Regions from separate parts of the Homo sapiens genome. Here all the other regions are reported to be linked to region 1. The links are microRNA targets in miRTarBase. Many come from high-throughput screens and were not tested one by one. Region 1 holds a microRNA gene; each other region holds the end of a gene's coding sequence.

Region 1 (4,528 bases):
ATTGAGAACTGCAATCTACTACCTTTAATTCTGATATGATGGCCTATGTTCAAATTAGGGAGCTAAGAGTGCACAATCCAAAAGCAGAAAGCATTTTCCATAGGATTAATCTTTTTCTCTTATCACAGAATGCTTACCAGTTGCCTTAATCTTCTTCAGGAAGAGAACCCCAAAATATAAGTTGAACATATGGTTACCAGCCTCCAAATCATAAGCCAACAAGATATAAGAAAATGTGTAACTTATTATGAAAAGTGTTCTCAAAGGGAAAGAACATGCTGAACTCTTTTTCTCCTTCTTGTTGAATGCACATTAATATGATCAGGGAGCCAGAGCAGGAATCTAGGACCATAGAAGCAACTGTAAATTGAGAACGGTAAAGCAACAAGAGGTAAGGACCCAGCCTAGTCCTTGACTGTAAAGCTGTTATCCCTGCCCCAGATTATTAGACTTTTATGTAACGAAAAAATCTAAGTTACAGTTAATTTGGGTTTCCTCTTACTCAACACTAGCTTTGTAGTAGCTACTAGTCCTTGTATGCTCCAGAAGTTGCTTTATACTTCAAGTACTTTGTTCAAAATTAAAAACAGAAAACCACTAACTGTACATACACATTGTGTGCAACCTCACCGTTTTCCAGTTAATTTACTGACCTATATCCAAAACTTACATTGTTCAGTTTCTTAGGCAAGCATGGAATAACCTTCAAAGTTAAACCATCAATATGTATAATTGTAGCCTTACGAGATTCTCAAAAACAAATCTGTATCATTAACAGTATCCCAAAGCATTCTATCAAAGATTTGCCTAACAAATCTCTTTCCCCAAATTGAGTAAGAATTTTTACTCAATTACCATAAAAAGGACTTTATGAAAGTCACAATTCTCAGCTCCATGTTTACCACCTGCAGTAGTAGCAACAGTTTTATACTGAACCATCCATAACCACCAACCCAAATTTTTAACCAGTATAAGATATCTGTCTGTGAGTCAGCTGGCTGGGGATGAATGAGGTGCAATCTGGTCACTTTCTGAGACACAGTAAACTGAATCCCTAACCCGCTATAAGCACCCAGCTGTCATCAACTTAAATTTTAGTCTGTGGTTAAGTACCAATTTATTTGCAGGGCAAAGTGAGCCTCAGAAAAATTCTACTGTGTTGTTAGATTGCCTTAAGGCCACCAAGTCATAGCTTACTACCATAATTTGTAGAGTTTTCATCAATTCCAGTGAACTATATAGTGATTCTTTGTAATTCTTACCAGTTATCACCCACATTCTTGAAATGCTGCTTTAACATCTAACTTCAAATAATCTGTTATCTTATTTCTACGTTCTATCTTGTTGATTATTCTCAAAGAGAAATGTAGTGCTTTTGTACCTTTTCTATCAAACTTACAGAGTACATAAATCTACCAACAAGTTATTTAGATAGAAGTTACCACCCTTCTCCATAAACACGGAAACAGGCTCTCCTCCATCAGGGTTTCTTTATAAAGGAAAAATGTTTAAGTAGCATCAACCCCATATGAGGATTCTACCTGTATTTTGCCACACAGAGATTTCAAACTAACTACATGTAAGGAAAATTATTTCCAAAATCTAACGTTTATTTCAGTTGAAATGCAAAATAGTGCAAGTATTACTAATTTGTAAGGCTGCCCAGAAAAATTAACAGTTTTTCTCTTGTGAAAACAGACTTCCATGATGTGGGGGTGGGGGCACCCACTGTTATGCCCTTAGAAACATTAAGACCCTCACGTAAAAGGACTAGGAAATTAAGTTTGTAATTAAGAAAAATCAAAGAAAGATAGAGATAACTGCACACTGGGAAAAATAAATACTAGCCTTTGAAATTTACATTGCATGCTGCACCATTACATATTAATACAAACCACCCTAGACTCATGCCTTAGTGCTATATTATTACTAGTTTCCCCTTTAAAATTATGTGTGGAAATTACTATCCTGTTTCATAAAGGTTACTGGCTTGGCCAATTAATACCAGCTCTAATTTTTATTGGATTAAAATACATCACTTCAGATATGTAAACTTTCTTCTATACATTACCACACACAAATCATTTGAGTATATTAAAACTAAAAAATCGACCTACTGCCATCAGAAAGAAGTCTGAGAAATAGCTTCATTTATTTTCAATATTATACCCTAAAAGAAACTTGTACCGACCCTTAAATCCTTATCCTAAACACTTGGCACCAGATGTGTTTCAGAATAATTTTCTAGGTTTTAGTAAGATTATTACGGTTTACATTGTGTTCATTATTGGATATCCTCAATAGGGCTCTTGATTAACATCGCATAATTGAACACTGCCAGCATATTACACGAGTATAGTTTATTATTACTATAAGGTTAACACAATCTACTTGAAATTTACCTACAGCCAGAAAAACATGCTATTTTTCTAGCTAGGAATACAAAAGGGTGCAATTACTACTACCCATAGAAATATTCAGTAGTCCTCATGTGAAAACAGACTTCCATGCTACTAGGGAGGGGGAGAAAAAGAGAAACCACCCACTGTTTTGTTCTTTCTTCCTTAAATAGCATTCGGAGAAATCTAACCTACAAAGGCAGCAGACAGAAAACAAGGTCACAATTTGGCCAACGATGGCATGGGCTTTATCTCCCCTAAATCTTGGTAGTATCCCAGAACGCAGCGTTCTAGTCGCTACCTAGTTAAGAAAAAGGGGTTGACTGTTTTCTGAAGCCACGCCCTAAATGAAGTGTCCCGCATACAGTAAGGACAACAAATTTTAAATGTCCCTACTCGCTTTCCCCCAATCTACTTTAATTGGGGGGAAGGGGACAGGGACATTTAAAATTTGTCTAATTTTACTGATCGATTACAGCCACCATGTTCTAGTACGGTGCTTCAGGACTCAAACGCAAAAGTTTCTCAAAGCCCAAAATTTGGCCAGTGTATACTAGCAGAAAATGATGCCCAAAGTCCACTCAAGTTCTTAATCGGCCTTAAAATGAAACTCCTTTAATAATACCCTCAATTGTATGACTGCGGCTAACCTATAATGGCCCAAATCACCATACCCAGTAAACATTTTCGAATCCCCATCAAGCTCATTTTTCGGGGGGTCGCCTCCAAAGCTTATTCTTATACCACTCACTTCAAAAACAAGAAAAAGAAAAGTGTTCCTCTGTGTTAACAGATGAAAATGACCATTTGACCATTCTAAACCACAAACTAGTAAAAGCTGCATCACCCCGTCAGCGACAGGGAAAGTGTGTCACGGTTGCTAAAGGAAAAAGGACGGCACCAGGTGGGTTTTCCTGGACTGGTTCAAAGAACTGGAACTGAGACCAGCTACTGAACGGCCTAATTACTTCGGCCACGGCCGAGAAAAAAGTGACGGGATGGTCACTCCGCGTCGCCGAGGACCCCATGACCCCCAAGTTGCGCCGGTTCCTACCCAGGTACTAAATGCGGCCCGGTGGGCACTCTTCCCTCACCCTCCGCGCACACCGAACAAAGGCCCAACCGGCCCGGCGCGGCCAGGCACCCAACCATGTCCGACTGCGCGGGGCGCCAGGTGGCCGCGACCCCAAACCCCGGCCCTCGCCCTCCGGCCCCGGGCTCCGCCCCCCAGGCCCCGGCCCCCACCCCCGACCCTACTATGCCTGGGTCGCCCCGCCCGCGGGGGCCCCGGCTGAGGGAGCCGGCTCGGGGTCTAAGAAAGGCGCCCACCGGTACTCGTAGTGTTCGTCGAAGTACTTGTCCGAGTAGTAGATCTGCTTGTGGGCCATCCTGCTGGCGCGCTGCAGAAAATGAAACGAGAGCGCGAAGAGCGGGCGCAGCAGACAAAACCACGTCCAGCCCAGGCAACAACTCGCCGGAGACTAACGACCGCAGTCCCAACGATCCGGATTTGAATCCGACAGCCCGCCGCCGATTGGACAGCAGCGCCGACCAATCACCTTCTGCGGAAGTCGGCCGGCTGCCAGCCTATCGTCGCCGCCGCCTCGCAAAGTCCGCTTCCTGGGTCAGCCAATCAGAGATCTGTTGCGAGGTTGCCCGAGGGAAGATAGGTACGTCACGGGGGTGGCAGGGCCCTTAACGGGCAGGGGCGTGGCCAGAGGAGGGCGAAGTCGGGACGTTAAGGGCCGCAGAGCGCGTGCGCAGGAACGTGGAAAGTTCCAGGACACGGAACCGTTGGGACGGAGGACCTGAAGGTGGAGTGAGGTATCACGGGGTTTGGTGATGACGTAGTCGGTCGAGGCCGGAAGCGTGGGCCACAGGGCTTTGAGCGGAAGCTGTCGACCTTGCACGGTGATGGCGCTCCTCGTGATCCCTTGTATCCCCTCAGGCTCGAGCCAGGAGCCTAGGTCCACTTTGAAAAGTAGTAAAAGGCAGAAAGGTTCTGCGGTGTGAGGGGGAGGGCGGCTTCGTGGTCGGCTGGGTCGGGGGAGCGCCGGGCGGCCGCGGCGTGGCTGTGTCCGGGGCTGCCCTGCGCAGCCGGCCGTTTCGCCGCCTGGTGCACTTGCTGA
Region 2 (4,528 bases), not on the chromosome of region 1:
ATTGAGGGAGATGACAGTCGGCACAGCAACACACTCACATGCAGGCAGAATAAGCTGGGATCAGAGGAAGGAGTACTACTGAAACAAGTACATACTAGTACAACAAACTCATTCCCAGACGTCCTTTCCAAAACTTTTTGTGTGTGTGTGTGTGTGTGTGTGTGTGTGTGAGATGGAGTCTCACTCTGTTGCCCAGGCTGGAGTGCAGTGGCGCAATCTTGGCTCATTGCAACCTCTGTCTTCCAGGTTCAAGCGATTCTCCTGCCTCAGCCTCCCAAGTAGCTGAGGCTACAGGTGCCCACAACCACGCCCGCCTACATTTTGTATTTTTATTAGAGATGGGGTTTTGCCATGTTGCCCAGGCTGGTCTCAAACTCCTGGCCTCAGGTGATCCACCCACCTTGACCTCCCAAAGTGCTGGGATTACAGGTGTGAGCCAGTGTGCCTCGCCAAAAATAACTTCTGAATATTTGTTAGCGCAAACTGAGATGGATGCAAACCCAGCAACACACTCATCTCTCATTCTCACCTCAAGGCAAATATGAATGAACCCAAACAATCCATAGTACTGCAGACAAACTCAGTCCCAGATATTCTTCACAAAAGTAAATCCTTACTGCTTATTCCAGCAAAATGACAAGTTCCCCTCTTTTGAGAGAAAACACATGCTTATGCTGAATCTAAATAGGAATATAGAAAAAGGCACTGTGATGACTCTTAATGAGCATTAAGAGTCATCACCACTCCCTAATCTCAAGTACCCAGGGACACAAATGCTGCGGAAGGCCGCAGGGTCCTCTGCCTAGGAAAACCAGAGACCTTTGTTCACTTGTTTATCTGCTGACCTTCCCTCCACTATTGTCCTATGACCCTGCCAAATCCCCCTCTGAGAAACACCCAAGAATGATCAAAAATAAATAAATAAATAAATAAAATAAAATAAAAAAATAAAAAAAAGAAAAAGGCACTGTGTTGATGCAGAGCTCAGTCTCAGCCATGGCTCCCTATTGTGGTTAAGCTGAATCCCTTAGATGAACATTATACAATTTAGGGTTAAAATATGACACCAAGCTCAGCCATCAGGCTGATGGGACATGAGACTAATTAGTCCCAGGTCAGAGAGTAAGACCTATTGTCATGGTAGGGTTCCATGTTAACTTCAAAGTCAGGTGATGATTAGGGTCAGGAGGTGGGTCAGAGTCAAGGTCATTCAGCAGTGAACGTGTTTAGGGTAAAGTCAAAGCCAGTTCAAAGCCAAAGCCATTAAAATTAGGGTAAGTTATGATAAGGACAATGGTTGAAATCAGTCAATTAAAGATTACATTCATCTCAAGCTAAAGCAGGTTAATATCAGGATGATCATCAGTTTTAGGATGAAGGTCAAGCAGGTCAGAAGTCAAGGTCCATTTTAATGTCACATACAAGGTCAAGACCAGTGGAACACAATCAGAGGAATAGATGCCTGATTTGCAGAGGTGAGCATCACACAAGGGTCCACACCCTGTGGCCCAGTCACTGGGCCCCAAGCTGGAGAGAACTCTGCTCCTCTAGAGGACAAACACCTGATGAGGCCCAAGCAAAATATAGGACCAGAGAAGATTTAAGCCACCCAGCCAGGGTGGAATTGCACTGTGGATAATCTCACATTGTGCAGCATCTGAACTTCTAAACTATGCTATTTTTAACACATAAAGTACATGCCAAGAGGAGCCACGAGGAAAGAAACCAGCTGAGGAGCCTGAGAAGTGGAAATGTAGAAAAGTGTAGCAAAGTAGAATTCAAGATCTAACTCAATGAGGCACTTCTGCAAAACCTAAAGTGACTCACGACCTGAACTACTACTATTTTAATAAAATTGCTTCTAAGTGGCAACTATTCCATTCCAGGTGGGGGCTTACATATGTTGGAATACAGGGCCTCTGCTGCCAAATCTTCCTCTCCTGTGACAAATGCAGAATTACACATCTAAGTGTTAGCAACTAGGTCAACTAAAAATAAAACACATAACACATGACTAGGTTACAGTTACACCTACAGGATATGCATGGCTCAGAGTCCCCAGCAGTTTCTGGCTGCTCTCCTAAAGGGACAATGCGTTCTCCATCCATGGTCCTCAACCTCCAACAATGTGATTAAAATACACCCACCCCCGCCCCCGGAAAAAAAAACAAACAAAAAAAAACTAGGGACAGGCACTACAGGACCAGATATGAGAGGGCCTTTCTGCCTTGAAGCACCACACGTGCCCATTTATGGAGGGCTCTCTTGCTTGATAAGGCATTGACTATGATTAGCTCATGTGGTCTCTACTGAGCCAAGGCTCTTGAAGAAGGAAAAAAAGACTCTGGCAAAGGCAGATGATCATTGTTCTTGTTCAATTTTATTGGCATTGCGTTCATCTCTTTACAGAAGAACTCAGCCCACACCCTAGAATGTAGACCTTTGGAAAAAGGAGAAGTGCTCCGTTAAGCAAGCTACAATGCAGGGGCAGATCCTAGGAAGGGAGCAGAACTGCCAGGGTTCCAACCAAAGAAAGAGGTTAATTAATAATGGGCAATATTGGGGAGATGGGTGGGGAAAAGAGGAAAAAGCTCCGCTAACCTAAGAATACCACAACCCTGAAAGGAGCGCCTTCTAGAACAAAGGTAAAATCACTAGGACAGATCTGTTAGGGTTTTCCTTTCACTCTTGTAGTAGAATGCTGATCTAACGGGAGTTTTGAAGTGTGGAGCAGGGGGGAAAAAAAAGAAAGAAAATGAGAATTTTAATTTTTGAAATAACGGCAATTTATCCATTGCACATACCACTGTATTATGCAAATCAACGTTTTGGAAAATTTAGACACAGAAGGGAACTAGACAGTTTTCCCCCTGGAGAGATGAAAAGCTTTTTGGCTCTTAAGTCTTTGATAAAAGGCGTACATAATTCTTGTGTCTACTGTACAGAATACTGCCGCTAGCTGGATTTCCCAATTCTGAGTAACACTCTGCAATCCAAACAGGGTTCAACCCTCCACCTTACAGGCCTGCATTACAGGACTTAAACACATAATCCAAGAATTTCTTACACTAATTTATACATTTTAATTGGTTGCATATATTAACATGTACTATAAGATTCTTTTCTAAGAAGCATTACATAATAAATGGATACTGTAAAAAGATCTGATTAGTTAAAAGTAACAAGCATTAACAGATAGATACATACAAAACTCAGCCTGATCAGACTGGGTGTGAGCCTGTAATGGGGCATGGGGCACCAGCCTTCCCAAGGGGTAGCCTTCAAGGAGGGAGGGGAAAGGGGGGGTAAAAAGACCACAAGACCAATAAAAAAAATCAGATAATTAGACACAGATTAACTGTAAACAGTTCTCTCTCTCTCCAGTGAACAAAAAGAATAAGCTTCCAATGCCAACTCCATATCAGAATGACTTCCACCGCTGGCTTGTCCTGCTGCCATACTCGCGGGCTCATGTGGGTGGGCAGGCAGACCCCAAGGAGCCATCACGGGCAAGGGCTGGAGTTTGATTACGTCAGATCTGTGTGTGTGTGTGTGCGTGTGTGTGTGTGTGTGAGAGATATGTGGGGTGTAACTGTGTTTGATGGGGTTTTCTTTTGGCAGCTGGATGTGAGAGATCAATGTATGTTTTGTTTGGAAGAGGAGAGGGGAATTGTGTTGAAGGCCTACGTGTGTTCTTGGTTTGTGAAGGACTCTGTGCTCAACTCTCACTGCCCCCTCAGCAACTGCAGCTTTCTGCCGAGGCCTTGGCCCGGTCATTCTTGTCCAGTTTGATAGGTTCAGGAAATTCGTTGTACAGCTCCACCTCCGTTTCCTGGACAAGGAAACAGAGAAAGGTTGGTTACTCAGGGAATAGAAACATTTCAGCCCTCATTGCGGGCACTTTCTGCCCAGGAGGGGCTCACTTCTGCTTGGGCAGAGTGGGCGGGGAGCTGTGAAGCAGAGCCTGCCCACACAGTTAAGGGAGCGCTCTGGCAGAAGGTGCCATGCTCAGGGGAGTAGCAAGAGAAAAACAGATTTTGTGACAACTCCAGGTCAATGTGAAGAGAGGAGTCTTGCCAGAAGAAGCAGCAGTCTGCACTGAGCAATCAGGACAGAAGTTCATGGACATTCTCAATCAGATCATGATCTGGGAGCTCTACCACATCCAGTTCAGATGCTTTCTGTATGTTCCCTATAGTTGCCAATGGTTAACAATGGTCTGGATTTCTAGCTTTTCTCAAACATCTGGCAACCCTCAGCCAGTGTGTGCACGAGGTGAAGTGGCTGGAGCTGAGTGTGAGCTGCCCTCTCAGCCTGTAACATTCCTTCTACCTCCCTATCTTCCATCCACTTTTCGGGACCAATGGCCTCTGGTCTCTTTTTTCTTCCAAAGGTTTAGCAGAGTTTTGTCTCCCAAATGCTGCAGGCCTAGAAAGGAAGCTGTGAATGAATTTTATCACCATCTGTGACAAGTGATCAGAGCACATGGACTATGGTCATTTTAGTGGCACTTTGCTAAAGTAACATG
Region 3 (4,528 bases), not on the chromosome of region 1:
TGGGGAAAAACCTTATGAATGTAGTGATTGTGGGAAAACCTTCAGCTGTAGCTCTGCCCTCATTCTGCATCGGAGGATCCACACGGGGGAGAAACCCTATGAATGTAATGAGTGTGGGAAGACCTTCAGCTGGAGCTCCACCCTCACCCACCATCAGAGAATCCACACTGGTGAGAAACCCTACGCCTGCAATGAATGTGGGAAGGCCTTCAGCAGGAGCTCAACCCTTATTCACCATCAGAGAATCCACACTGGAGAAAAACCCTATGAATGTAATGAATGTGGGAAAGCCTTCAGCCAGAGCTCACACCTCTATCAGCACCAGAGAATCCACACTGGAGAGAAGCCCTACGAATGTATGGAATGTGGAGGAAAGTTTACCTACAGTTCAGGCCTTATTCAGCATCAAAGAATCCACACCGGGGAGAACCCCTATGAATGTAGTGAGTGTGGGAAAGCCTTCAGGTACAGCTCGGCTCTTGTTCGCCATCAGAGAATTCACACTGGAGAGAAGCCTTTGAATGGGATCGGCATGAGCAAAAGCTCCCTCAGAGTTACGACCGAGTTAAATATCAGAGAGTCCACGTGAAAGAGCCACACACCCATTTTCCTCACTTTCCCTGAGTCTCAAGAGCTCTTGCCTTACCCTATAAATCTCAACAGCTTAGGATGTGTCCCTTTCAACTCAGACTTTTCATTTTAGAGAATGGGGCAGATGGGGCAAATCGTTGAATTTTCCCAGAAATCACACCAGCCTTAGAAAGCGTCAAGGCAAGTGGATGGCGTGCTGGGAATAGAAAGCAGCTCTGGGACCAGTTACCCCATTTAGGAAAGGAGTTTGCACTAAACTGTTTTTCTCACAGCAGAGGAACCTTTCCAAGGTGGGGATGGAAGCACAGTCGGGACAGAATTCGATGGATTCCTTTAGTTGGAGTCCGCGTAGTCAGCACAGACAGCAGTGGAAAGGACGCTCTGGGTCCTGTTATTTGCTAGGGAGGGTAAAGGGAGACTATTTCAAAGCTACTGTTCCTAGTCCAGCTTTAAGTTTCGGTAAGAAACATGCTGTTTTGTTTCATGATTTCGTTAATTATGGAAATTTGGCATTGAGGGATTATTTTATTGAGGGTAGAAGAGATTCCAGAATCATCATCTGTGATGATGGTGTCCTTTAGGGCTCTTGGAGCAGCCAGACCATGTTTCCAAGAGAAACCTGGTGATATTGCCAGCAGACCCCCTGCCATCCCCCCCAGTTGTCCTGGGGCTGAATGGGCAAATCTGTCCAAACAGCTAGTAACCGGCTGTGAGGGAGAGGGTCAGAAGCACTTAGCGTTGGCCTCTGATTGCTGTCCTCTCTTGTCCTCTTCCCACTCCAATGATGAAAATGATTTTCTCTAAATGCCTGGGTAAGGATGCTTTCAAGGAGCTCACTTGGCCTGCTTGCCCTGCCCTCTCACCTCTGACACCCAGCCCCAGGAGCCAGACCACTCCTGCCTCCACCTCTGACTCTTCAGCAGCTGAAGATTAATGCAGAGAAAGAGCAAAGCCCAAAAGGGAGAAAAAAAAAACAAAAAAACAAAAAAACGAAGCCCAGAGAAGGCAGGCTGTGCCTGAGCCTGGTAGCAGAGCTCGTTGCTGGGTGAGGATGGCACTCCCCGAGTTTTCCCAACCGACGGGATGACCTTCCATTGTGTTTTCCCAACCCTGCTCATCCTGTAGCATAAATGAAGTGCACTATTAAACAGAATAGTTTTTCAGAAGAGATTGAGTGTGGTTTTGTGCAATGTTTGGACCATATATTTCAGTTAAAACAAGACATGTTGGCTGGGTGCAGTGGCTCATGCCTGTAATCCCAGCACTCTGGGAGGCCAAGGCAGGCAGATCACCTGAGGTCTGGAGTTCTAGACCAGCCTGACCAACATGGAGAAACCCCGTCTCTACTAAAAACACAAAATTAGCCGGGCATGGTGGCACATGCCTATAATCCTAGCTACTCAGGAGGCTGAGCCAGGAGAACTACTTGAACCCGGGAGGCGCAGGTTGTGGTGAGCTGAGATCGCGCCATTGAACTCCAGCCTGGGCAAGAAAAGCGAAACTCCATCTCAAAAAAAAAAGACAAGACATGTTGGTAACTATAAATGGAATTTGAAAGTTGACTTAATTTTTTTTTTTTTTTTTTTTTTGAGACAGAGTCTAGCACTGTTGCTCAGGCAGGAATGCAGTGGCACCATCTTGGCTCACTGCTGCCTCTGCCTCCCGGGTTCAAGCACTTCCCGTGCCTCAGTCTCTAGAGTAGCTGGGACTACAGGTGTGCACCACCACGCCCCAGCTAATTTTTGTATTTTTAGTAGAGATGGGGTTTCACCATGTTGCCCAGGCTGGTCTTAAACTGAGCTCTAGCAATCTGCCGGCCTCAGCCTCAAAGTGCTGGGATTATAGGCGTGAGCCACCATGCCTGGCCCTAAAATTTCTTTATAGGCTAGGTACAGTGGCTCATGCTTATAATCCCAACACTTAGGGAGGCCAAGGCAGTAGAATCTCTTCAGACCAGCCTAGGCAACGTGGCAAGACCCTATCTCTACAACAAAATTAAAAAAAAAAAATTAGGGCTGAGCGCAGTGGCTCACAGTTGTAATCCTAGCACTTTGGGAGGCCGAGGTGGGCGGATCACAAGGTCAGGAGTTCGAGACCAGCCTGACCAACATGGTGAAATGCTCTCTCTCCTAAAAAAAAAAAAATTATATATATATATCAGCCAGGTGTGGTGGCACGTGCCTGTAATCCCAGCTACTCAGGAGACTGAGGGAGGAGAATCGCTTAAATGCAGGTGGCAGTGGTTGCGGTGAACCAAGATTGCTCCATTGTACTCCAGCCTGGGCAACAGAGTGAGACTCCATCTCAAAAAAAAAATTAGCTGGGTGTGGTGGTGCACACTTGTGGTCCCAGCTACTCGGGAGGCTGAGGTGAGAGGACTGCTTGAGCCTAGGAAGTTGAGCCTGCAGTGAGCCCCTGTGATTGCACCACCACACGATAACAGAGCAAGACAGTCTCAAAAATGAAATGAAATTACTTTATAGATTGCCATTTTTTTTTTTTGAGATGGAGTCTTGCTCTTGCCCAGGCTGGAGTGCAGTGGACCAATCTCGGCTCACTGCAACCTCAGCCTCACTAGTATCTGAGATTACAGGCGCCCACCACCACGCCCAGCTAACTTTTGTATTTTTAATAGACAACGGGATTTCACCATGTTGGCCAGGCTGGTCTTGAACTCCTGACCTCATGATCTGCCTGCCTCGGCCTCCGAAAGTGCTGGGATTACAAGCATGTGCCACTACGCCCAGCCTATGCAAATAAATTTTAAATCTGTGTTCTCATGGCTGTAATCCCAGCACTTTGGGAGGCCAAGGCGGGCGGATCACGAGGTGAGAGTTTGAGACTAGCCTGGCCAACACGGTAAAACTCTGTCTCTACTAAAAATAGAAAAATTAGGCTTGGTGGCACATGCCTGTAATCCCAGCTACTCGGGAGGCTGAGGCAGGAGAATCACTTGAACCCAGGAGGCAGAGGTTGCAGTGAGCTGAGATAATGCTGCTGCACTCCAGCCTGGGTGACAGAGCGAGACTGTCTCGAAGAAGAAGAAAAAAACCTGCCCATGTCCTGATGGCTCTCCCAAGCCTCAGTCGTGGGTCTCCAGTGGACTGCAGAGCAGTTACACCTGGACTTTCTACAGTTTCATAGTATGTTTCAAACCAGATCCCACTTTCCCATTTATTGCCCCCTCTTAAAATTTCTGTAAACCTGTCAGGATCAAAATTTTGTAAGTTTTCTTTGATTATACTCCTCATCCTCCTCCATCTAACCAGCATCAAGCCTGGGCAGGTTCAGTAAAGATGGAGTGGAATGATACTGTTTTCAGAGTTGAGATTGTAGAGGAGATGGGATTTGCAAGTGATGGTAGCAGTAGCTGATACATGGCATATACTCTGTGTCAGCGTTGCCTGGCTCTTTTCCGAGTGGTTTTCATGTATTAATCAGCTGGGTGCAGTGGCTCACGCCTGTAATCTCAGCACTCTGGGAGGGTAAGGCAGGAGAATCGCTTGAACTCAGGAGTTCAAGCCCAGCCTGGGCAACATAGTGAGACCCAGTCTCTACAAAAATAAAAATTAGCTGGGCGTGGTGGCACACATCTGTAGTCCCAGCTACTCAGGAAGCTGAGATGGGAGGACTGCTTGAGCCCAGGAGTTGGAAACTAGCCTAGGCAATATAATGAGACCCCTGTCTCTCTGAAAAGAAAAAAATCCAATACTTGGCGAGGAATGATGGCCTACAGTAAATGAGGTAGAGCTGCTAAAATGATGAGCAGAGAAAGGGTGTCAGCAGACTCAGCGTGTGTTAAAATGAATTTCTTACACGAGATCTGAGAACCAAACACCTATGTTATCTCGGAAGGCCCAAATAGCTTCCCGTTCACTCAGACAATAAAGGATGAAGTGAGGGGAGCACCGGGATTGTTCAGTGACAGCTGCCTCAG
Region 4 (4,528 bases), not on the chromosome of region 1:
AAGCCCTTCAAGTGCCCGCGCTGCGAGCGCGACTTCAACGCGCCCGCGCTGCTGGAGCGGCACAAGCTGACGCACGACCTGCAGGGCCCGGGCGCGCCCCCAGCGCAGGCCTGGGCCGCGGGGCCAGGCGCAGGGCCCGAGACGGCGGGCGAAGGCACCGCTGCGGAGGCGGGCGACGCTCCTCTGGCTTCGGACCGCAGGCTGCTCCTGGGCCCCGCGGGGGGCGGCGTGCCCAAGCTCGGGGGGCTGCTCCCCGAGGGCGGTGGGGAGGCGCCTGCACCTGCGGCGGCCGCCGAGCCCTCGGAAGACACCCTGTACCAGTGCGACTGCGGGACCTTCTTTGCGTCGGCCGCGGCCCTGGCCAGTCACCTGGAGGCCCACTCGGGCCCGGCCACCTACGGCTGCGGCCACTGCGGGGCTCTGTACGCGGCGCTGGCCGCCTTGGAGGAGCACCGGCGGGTCAGCCACGGTGAGGGCGGCGGGGAGGAGGCGGCGACCGCCGCCCGGGAAAGGGAACCGGCGTCCGGGGAACCCCCGTCTGGCTCCGGCCGCGGCAAGAAGATCTTCGGCTGCTCCGAGTGCGAGAAGCTGTTCCGCTCACCGCGAGACCTGGAGCGGCACGTGCTGGTGCACACTGGCGAGAAGCCGTTCCCGTGCCTGGAGTGCGGCAAGTTCTTCCGCCACGAGTGCTACCTCAAGCGCCACCGGCTGCTGCACGGCACCGAGCGGCCCTTCCCTTGCCACATCTGCGGCAAGGGCTTCATCACGCTCAGCAACCTCTCCAGGCACCTGAAGCTGCACCGGGGCATGGACTGACTGCCAGGCTGCGTGCGCCCTGCCCTCCACCCAGCCTCCTGGACTCGGCCTGGACCAGGGGACCTCGGGACTGCGCGTGAGGCCCCGGCCCTCCAAATCCAAATCCAGACGCAGGCCCTGAAATGAGGGGACCCTGACTGGAGAGGTGGGGGCCACCAAAAACCCACAAAGGCCCCGGAGCTGGGGGACCACAAACAAACAGGGTCCTTAGCTGGGGCAGGGGAGCCCAAATCTAGGGAGAGACTCCTGAGCCTGAGGTCCCTGGAATGAGTGTGGGTAGCCGTAAGTCCCCAAGACATGGGGACTTTGCAGTGAGCAATGGGTCTCCACAAGTACCTCTCATCTTGAGAGCCCTAATACTAAAAGATGGGCACCCACCCCCACCAAGGGAAGACTGCCCCATTCCCTGAGAGCCATCATTCCTAACGACCTTGATCTGGAGAATGTGGAGGGAGCATGTCCCTGAATTTTCCTAGATCCCTCCAAATGCCACCCACCAGAGTCACTGGTGACCCCAGAAAATGGATATAGCCGAAATCTGCCTTTCCCCTTTTTCATTCCCTGTGCTGAAAGAGGGACCAGGGTAGATGCCCCCTGCCCTCGAATCCCCCCTCCCCGACTGTGGAATGGATCGACCCTAACGATCTTCCCCGCCCCAAACACTAGAATAGACTGGCCTGAAATCCCCTTGCCCAGTAGAATGGACTGATCTATGTGCACACACCCCCATCACATGGAATGGGCTGGTCTAGGCTGTGGCCTGCCACCTTCCTTAGAGTGAATAGGGCGGACACTCCTCTCTTTTCCTGTAGCGTGTGGACCGGTCCACGCAATTCTTTATCCTGTGAACTCATCTGAGTGGGAGGTGGTGGACACTGGGGTTTCCTTCCCTCTCTCCGTAGCATCCGTTGGTCTTTCTCTCCATCTCTGTTGGTTTGTCTGTCTCTGTCTTCCTCCCAATCCCTAGGGGAAGGGGGCATTTGGCTAGGGGGTGCCCCTGTGAGCCTCGACCTTGCCCCCTCGTCCCTCTCCCCAGTGTTTCCAGGACCCCCAATAAACCTTGTCCTGTCAGTCGCTGATGCCTCATTTTCTGATCCTTGGCTCCAGGCGGGGGGGATGGGGAATCTCTTAGGACAGACTCCCTAAATAGAGACGGGTCCTCGTTTTCTCCTGAGAAGTTTCAAAGCTTTGAATAGTACATGCCCTTTTAAATTAGAGTCGGTTTAGGCTGGGCTTGGTGGCTCACGCTTGTAATCCCAGCACTTGGGGAGGCCGAGGCAGATAACCTGAGGTCAGGAGTTCAAGACCGTGCCTGGCCAACATGGGGAAACCCTGTTTCTACTAAAAATACAAAAATTAGCCGGGTGTGATGGCACATGCCTGTAATCCCAGCTACTCGGGAGGCTGAGGCAGGAGGATCTCTTGAACCTGGGAGGTGGAGGTTGCAGTGAGCCGATATTGCACCACTGCACTCCAGCCTGAGCAACAGAGCGAGACTCTGTTTCATAAATAAATACAATTAGAGTCAGTATCAATCAAAATGAGTTCCGTCCCTTAAATACATGATCCACCTCCAACAGACGGACACGCCCCCTAGAAACTAGACACGCCCTTTAGAAGTCACCAATCTTATAGGACACACCCCTTGGAAACCAAACTGCCTCATTAGAGGCGTGTCTGAGCAGAGGCCCCGCCTCTTAGATGCTGCCTTGGACCCTATACCAGACCCCCAGAATAGGACCCGCTCATCAGAGAATTGGGGGTGGGGGTGCCTTCAGACTGTCTCCTGCACACTGCATTGTGTTCCCGTACTGAAGGCTTATTCTGAGCCAGGCGTTGGAACTCCCTGTGGGGATCATCCCGGCCCTCCTGGGGTTTATGTTCTGTCGTGTAGGCGACGGGTATGGAGAAAAGAGGAATCAAGTAAATGTAGAAAATAATTTCAGATCGTCCTGAGCATTCTGAAGGCAATAGGGAAGGGTGGTAAGAAAATGAATGGCCACCTTACTCACTTTTTATGCCACCTTAGATGGGGTGGTCCATGTGGGCTTCTCGGCGGAGGTGGCGTTTGATCTGAGCCCTGAAGGGTAAGGGTGAGCAAGGACCTGCCAGGAGGATGCCCAAATGGACACAGGAGGAAAGTGAGCTCAGGGAGGGAAGGATGAGATGAGGTTAACAGGTGGGTAGACGTCACATCACAGTAAGCCAGGCAAGCCAAAACAGGTGTTTGACTGTGTTCTCTGGGTGATGGGAAGCAAAGTGTTAATCGAGGAGGGAAGGGACCACCCTTGCATCTTACCAAGATCCCTGTGGCTGCTGAGTGTAAACGAAGCTGCAGGACGCAGAGTCAGGAGAGTGCAGCGCTCCTGCAGTCCAGGAGAAACTTGTGGGAGCCTAAACCAGAGTGACCAACAGAAATCACGCCTGTAACCCCAGCACTTTGGGAGGTCGAGGCGGGAGAATCACTTGAGCTCAGGAGTTTGAGACCAGCCTAGGCAACATAGTGGGACCCTGTCTGTACTAAACATAATAAAATAAAACAAAACAAAGAAATGGGTGGGTTGGAGATGAACTCTGGAGTACGAATGCAGAGGACTGGTTGTGTGCATGTGTGTATTGGTTGGGGGTGAGTGTAATGGGAAGGGAGAAATCAGGAATAAATGGTTGAGTGGTGGCATTTCTTACTAAGACCAGAAAACTGAGGGAGGACACATTTAAGTAGGAGTTTAGGAGAATCAAAGTTTCCTCCCCTTTAGTTCCTTAAGATTTTTTTGTTTGTTTTTGAGATAGGGGCTCACTCTGTTGCCCAGACTGGAGTGCAATAGTGTGATCTCGGCTCACAGCAAACTCCACCTCCTGGGTTCAAGTGATTCTCATGCCTTAGCCTCCCAAGTAGCTGGGATTACAGATGTGCACCACTACACCTAGCTAATTTTTGTATTTTTAGTAGAGACGGGCTTTCACCATGTTGGTCAGATTGGTCTCGAACTCCTGACCTCAGGTGATCGATCTGCCCGCCTCGGCCTCCCAAAGTGCTGGGATTACAGGTGTGAGCCACTGCACCCTGCTGAGTTTCTTAAATTAAATGCCCCACAGGTTGCCATTCTCAAATATTGAACATACATATATCCTGTGATGCAGGAATTCTACTGCTAGGCGTAAATGCTAACTCAAGTCCCCCTGCACCCAGAGACATACAAAAACATTCATAGCAGCAATACTTTCAACCCCAAACTCAGGACAACCAAAACGCCCATCAGCAATACAGTGGATAATTAGCGATGGCATATTATGCAGTGGAATACTATACGGCAACAAGAATGAATGAGCTGCAGATAAACACAGTATCATGAATGAAAGTTACAAAGATACAGGACCCAAAAAGCCAGAAACAGAGCATGATTTCATTTACATAACATTGAGGCCAGGTGCAGTGGCTCACGCCTATAGTCCCAGCACTTTGGAAGGCCAAGGCAGGAGGATTGCTTGAGTCCAGGAGTTCGAGATCAGCCTGGGCAACATGGCAAGACCCCGTCTCGAGTAAAAATACAAAAAATAGCCAGGTGTGGTGGCGTGTGCCTGTAGGCCCAGCTACTCGGGGGGCTGAGACAGGAGGATCGCTGGAGCCTGGGGTAGGGGGACGGAGGTTGCAGTGAGCTAAGATCATTCCACTGCATTCCAGCCTGGCCAACAGAGGGAGACCCTGTCTCCA
Region 5 (4,528 bases), not on the chromosome of region 1:
GGACTGCGGCCAGTCCTGCCCCCGGAACCTAAACCTCCAGCCCCTTCCTCCTGCAGAGAAGGCTCGGGCCCTTAAGCTGTCACCCCAGCAACCTGCACCTGCATATTCTGCCGTGGAGGGATTGTCTCCTTGGGAACAGGCTGGACCATGGGGTTGACCTCCCTCAGCTTGGGTGGCTGCTCCCTTCCCTCTGCAGGCTGTGCAGATGAAGGGGAGCCAACATCCTGTCCCTAGGTGATGCCCCCATCATGAAAGGTAAGCTGGTCTGTGGATTCTGGGACCCCACATAGAAGACCATAGGCTTATGATGACCCTTAGGGTTAGAGAGTTTCCCTGTCATTGTTCAAATATGGAGGTTGTGGCACAGACAGGGCAGGGACTAGCCCAGATCCCCTAGCGCCATGGTCCCCACCCCAACCGCCTCTGATATCCACCCCCACAGGAGTGCGTTCCCCAAAGTACCTCCTGCAGCTCACTTTCTCCTTTTTCCTGGGGTGATGGTGGGGCAACCCCAGACTAACAGAGCAGCAACCCTGGGTCCCAGTTCATTCGCTCCTGCCCAGAGGCAAGGCTTTTACTTTCCACACCTGTCCAATTAGCAGGCTAGTCTGAGCCATCCTTGGTACGTGACCTGCTCTGACATGCCTGGCTCACCCTGGGGCGGTTACTTGGCTGGCTACAGAGGGCGCACCCTCCATGATCTCAGTTTCCCACTGGCTTGCAAGCGGGGTGGAGGCCTGTCCAGGGTCACACAGCTGGCCACAAGCAGGGAGGAGCCAGGACTGTGTCTGCTGATCCTCACCCTGGGACCTCCCTCCATCCCACTTCCTGTGAGGCCACTGCTGGGGCAGACCGTTAGCCAACACCGTCCTCCTGCACCTGGGGTTTATCAGCTTGAGACTCGCTTATCAGTTTCCTCATCAGCCTCCTTCCCCAGCGGTTCCCTCCCGGGCATGATCTCTTGTCAGTTTTCCTGGTTGACACTAGCACCCCTTGGGCCCGCTGGAGAGTGGCCACCTTCCCTGGGACGGGCCCACCTTCAGCTGGGTGACCCTTCCACCCAGCTAATCCATCTCGAGCCCCCCACCTGTTGATGCAGCCCCCACCCAGCTGACCTGCCTTTGAAGCTGGCACTGGGACTTAGGAACCACTTCTGCCAGGTACAGGCTCCATCTGGACCACTCTGCCTCACTGTTGCAGTCAACCCCACCAGCGATTTGTTCACCCCACTCCCACTACGACACCTTTAGGACTTTCGTGTCCTCCGGTGGCCCCGTCTCCTGGGGTCCCCTGTACACACACATCCGTAAGAAGGGACTTGCTCAGTCCCGCGGGACCTTGTTCCTTCCCCCTTTGACGAAAGCCCCCTTTAACCTGTCTCCCTTGGGACCTGTTTACTTCGCCCCCCCCCCGACCTGTGCCCCCCACTTGCTCTGCCCCACCGGGTGTGACCCCTCCCGGCCCCTCACCATGGCGAAGCCCGAGAGCAAGGCAGACGTGCGGCTGGAAGCTTTGAGCTTGGCCCGGCTGAGGTAGAGGCGGCGCCAGCTGAGCGCCCGCAGCGAGTGCTGACTGGCCCCCATGAGGTCCAGGTAGCCGCGGTGCACGAACTCCCGGTACGTGGCCGAGCCTGCAGGGCTCTCGCCCTCAGGGTTCAGCGGGGCCTGCTCGCCCGCGTCCCCCTCGCCGCCCTTCATCCTGGGGGGGGGGCGGCACCAGGCGGTCACTACGGGGCGGAAGCGCCTCGGGGGCCCCAGCCGGGCCGGCCCAAGCCCGGGGGCGGCCCCATTCCCAGACAGGACGAGCAGGATGCAGGCGGCGGGCGCCCAGGAAGAGGCACCCCCAGTGGAGCAAGAAAAGCAGCGTCTGCGGGGAGCCCCAGGAGCCGGAGCGGGACAGCGGAGGCCAAAACAGGAACTGGGACAGAGGCGGAGCCGGGGCTAGCCACATGATGGGGTGGAGCCGGGGACCAAGTCCCCGCAGTCCCGGGCCCGCAGAGATTCCCCGCGACCCCTACCCACCAAGAACGTTATCCAAGCGCCCGGACCCCACCGAGGTGCACGCCAACCCCAGCCCCCTCCAAGGTACAGCTGGACACCCCAGGTGTCCACACTTCCAAATCCCTCCCAAAATGAGTCCAGGAGAGGTGAGCCCACTCATCTGTAGGTAGGGACCCCGCAGATACACACACGAACTCCGCAGCCCCGGCTGGAAGATTTTGAGTTTTATAGCAAACCGTATTGTACAGACCCGGGGCCCAGGGGCCCAGCCCGGCTGGGTCCCCCGCTTGCCCCTCGCCGGGCTGCCTCTTCCCTCCCCCAAGCGGCCCCATTCTCAAGCCTCTCGCTATCCCCAGGCCCCACCCCTCCGGCCTTTGGTCCGCCCAGCCCTCCCCCCACCCGCGCACCTCCCTGTTACCTGAGGTATGTGGATAGATCTCCCCTCCCCTACATGGTAAGCCCCGGCCCCCCGGAGGCCTGCGCGGAGGGGCGGGACCTGGCCCGGCTCATCCCCGGGGTCCCGAAGCCCCACCCCGCGCTCGAGGAAGGGGCAGGGAAGGAGGGCCAGCAGAGTCTGTTACTAGGTTCCCATGGCAACTAAGAGGGGGCCATTTCCAGCCTTAGCACTGGCATCGGGAGGTGTCCGTTGGCTGCTATTTCCATGGCAACCAGGAGTGGCAGTTCCCTGGGCAAATGGGATACAAGTTTCCATGACGATGAAAGAGTGGGAAGAGCCAGGCTGGAGGAGTCCCATGGTCCCCATTCTTGGGCTGGCGCCCCCAGCCATAATGCGGGTCCGGCGGGTGCCGCCGCTCAATACAGTAAAACAAGAACAAGCCTGGGGGTGGCGCAGTCCCAAATGGGCGCCCACCGGCCCGGTCTCAGGTCTCAGTCCAAGCTGGTCCAGTCCCCTCACACCCCGGCTCCCCCAGGTCCGAGATTCCCCCGGTTCAAGTAACACTTCAGTACAGATGAATGTTCAAGTATTGTGCGGAGAGGCGGGCAGGGGGTTGGGGCGCCCCTCGCCACTCCCCTGGGCCGCGAGCTGAAGAGCGGCTGCCCGCGGCCCCCACTCCTTGCAATAGCTGCCGTTTTCAGTGACGTTCAAGGAGTCAGGGTCAGGGGGAAGGAACTGAAGCCTGGGGAGGGGGGAAGCAGAGAGGTGACCCCCAAGGGGGTATTGCTGTCCCCACACCTGCTCTCATCCCCACCTCCAGCTCAGCCCCAGCTTGCCCCTGGTTCCCCTACCTCTGACACCTGGATCCCCAATTGCTCCTCCGGTTTTCCTTTTGTGGCCCCACCCCCACCCCCCACTCCAAGTAACTGGTCTTTGTTCCCTGAACCCTTGGTGGTCTGCTGTCTGCCCCGCCCCCCGCCCCTTCCACCTCCCCCAGCCCCTGGCTCCCATATCCTGTGTGTGTCCTTTCCCCATTCTCCCCCCCAACACTTGCACCATAACCCCCCTCCCACCGTCCCTTCGGCTCAGCACCCTCCAGTACCTCTGACCCACTCCCCCAGGGGATGGACAATGAAGCAGGTAGCAGGGGCAGGACATAGGAAGGAGAAACCCCCAGAGATATCAGTGCAGGGGGGAAAGAAGGGGGTGGCTGGCTTGAGTCCCTGGGTGGGAATCCCAAGTCACTGACACTCAGGAATCCCAGGGTGGTGAGGTGGGAACCTGGCCTCCCAGCAGGGGTGAAATGAAGCCGGAGGTCCAGGCTCCTGTCGAGTCCGGGGGAGGGTGGGGGGCGCCCAACTAGCTGTCCTTGAGAAGCAGCTTCTCCTCAGGGCAGCGGAAGGGGCCAGGGGGCCCGGCAGCTGCCAGCCGGGCACAAGCTTCGGGTGAGAGCTGGCGGCAGGAGCGCAGGTCTAGGCGGCGTAGACGAGGGCAGCGGCGGAACAGCGGGAGGCAGTGGTCCGTTAGGCGGTGGCAACCTGGGGATGGGGCAGTGGAGCTGAGACCAGGCAGGTGAGCAAGGGGTTGGCACTGGCCGTGGGGATCCACAGGCTGGCAGGACGGATGGGGGACCGTGCTTACCAGCAAGATTGAGGTGCACCAGGGTCTCGCGGAGTGGGGACGTGGGGGCCGTGAGGAGGTGAACACTGGGGTCCCCGACGTGGGCGCAGTGGCTCAGGTCCAGGGCGCTCAGCTGGGGTGCGTGACGCAGCAGGAGACGCAGGGAGGCATCTGTCAGCTCCAAACCTGCCAGACGCAGTTCTGCCACCCCCTGCAGCCGACCACGGCTCTCTGTTTGCCCTGGGCAGCCAGATGAGAGGTCAGCACTCCTGGCCACTCCCATCCCTGCGCCCAGGTATCCAGACCATCTGCCCTCCACCTGCTTCCCACATAAGTGAGTGACCTGGTGCACTCTGTGGCTTGCTCTTCTCAAAAACACCCTCATGGCCTGACCTCATCTGTCCACTCCTCACATCACCTCCTCGGAGGCCTTCCATGATTATTGTATTTGAGACTACAATATTCTGCCAGGCGTGGTGGCTCATGCCTGTAATCCTAGCACTTTGGGAAG

Evidence for each region. Region 1 holds the annotated microRNA hsa-miR-3153 (GGGGAAAGCGAGUAGGGACAUUU, at 2,784-2,806, opposite strand). A microRNA usually pairs through its seed, bases 2 to 8, with sites in the 3' UTR of a target mRNA and lowers its output. Matches are read on the target gene's strand: a 7mer-m8 pairs with bases 2 to 8, a 7mer-A1 pairs with bases 2 to 7 and ends in A, and an 8mer does both.
Region 2: miRTarBase lists RAB7A as a target of hsa-miR-3153. Seed matches in the 3' UTR shown: 7mer-m8 at 3,294-3,300.
Region 3: the mRNA of ZNF3 is a reported target of hsa-miR-3153. Seed matches in the 3' UTR shown: 7mer-m8 at 615-621, 7mer-A1 at 735-741, 7mer-A1 at 1,659-1,665 and 7mer-A1 at 1,692-1,698.
Region 4: the mRNA of FIZ1 is a reported target of hsa-miR-3153. Seed matches in the 3' UTR shown: 7mer-m8 at 1,359-1,365.
Region 5: the mRNA of FBXL19 is a reported target of hsa-miR-3153. Seed matches in the 3' UTR shown: 7mer-m8 at 3,591-3,597.

The regions. Positions count from the first base shown.
Region 1 is chr9:89,310,552-89,315,079 of GRCh38, reverse strand. MIR3153 (microRNA 3153) reads right to left here and starts at 2,855; the gene lies at 2,774-2,855. CKS2 (CDC28 protein kinase regulatory subunit 2) reads right to left here and starts at 3,885. Exons shown (of 3, transcript NM_001827.3): 1 at 3,729-3,885. The coding sequence starts at 3,787. LOC105376136 (a long non-coding RNA gene) reads left to right here and starts at 4,278. Exons shown (of 3, transcript XR_930101.4): 1 at 4,278-4,528. RefSeq lists enhancers at 3,330-3,379, 4,050-4,339 and a silencer at 4,350-4,528.
Region 2 is chr3:128,812,631-128,817,158 of GRCh38, reverse strand. RAB7A (RAB7A, member RAS oncogene family) reads right to left here. Exons shown (of 6, transcript NM_004637.6): 6 at 2,361-3,832. The coding sequence ends at 3,737. Among named protein-coding and RNA genes, the nearest start is that of MIR12124, 32 kb to the left of the region's middle. RefSeq lists an enhancer at 3,719-4,013.
Region 3 is chr7:100,067,204-100,071,731 of GRCh38, reverse strand. ZNF3 (zinc finger protein 3) reads left to right here. Exons shown (of 6, transcript NM_032924.5): 6 at 1-1,759. The coding sequence ends at 589. Among named protein-coding and RNA genes, the nearest start is that of ZNF3, 12 kb to the left of the region's middle.
Region 4 is chr19:55,588,738-55,593,265 of GRCh38, reverse strand. FIZ1 (FLT3 interacting zinc finger 1) reads left to right here. Exons shown (of 3, transcript NM_032836.3): 3 at 1-1,890. The coding sequence ends at 816. Among named protein-coding and RNA genes, the nearest start is that of FIZ1, 8.5 kb to the left of the region's middle.
Region 5 is chr16:30,946,459-30,950,986 of GRCh38, reverse strand. FBXL19 (F-box and leucine rich repeat protein 19) reads right to left here. Exons shown (of 11, transcript NM_001382779.1): 10 at 4,039-4,257; 11 at 2,204-3,935. The coding sequence ends at 3,757. ORAI3 (ORAI calcium release-activated calcium modulator 3) reads right to left here and starts at 1,919. Exons shown (of 2, transcript NM_152288.3): 1 at 1,470-1,919. The coding sequence starts at 1,697. RefSeq lists enhancers at 46-563, 564-793, 1,082-1,600 and silencers at 1,524-1,573, 1,614-1,873, 2,244-2,493.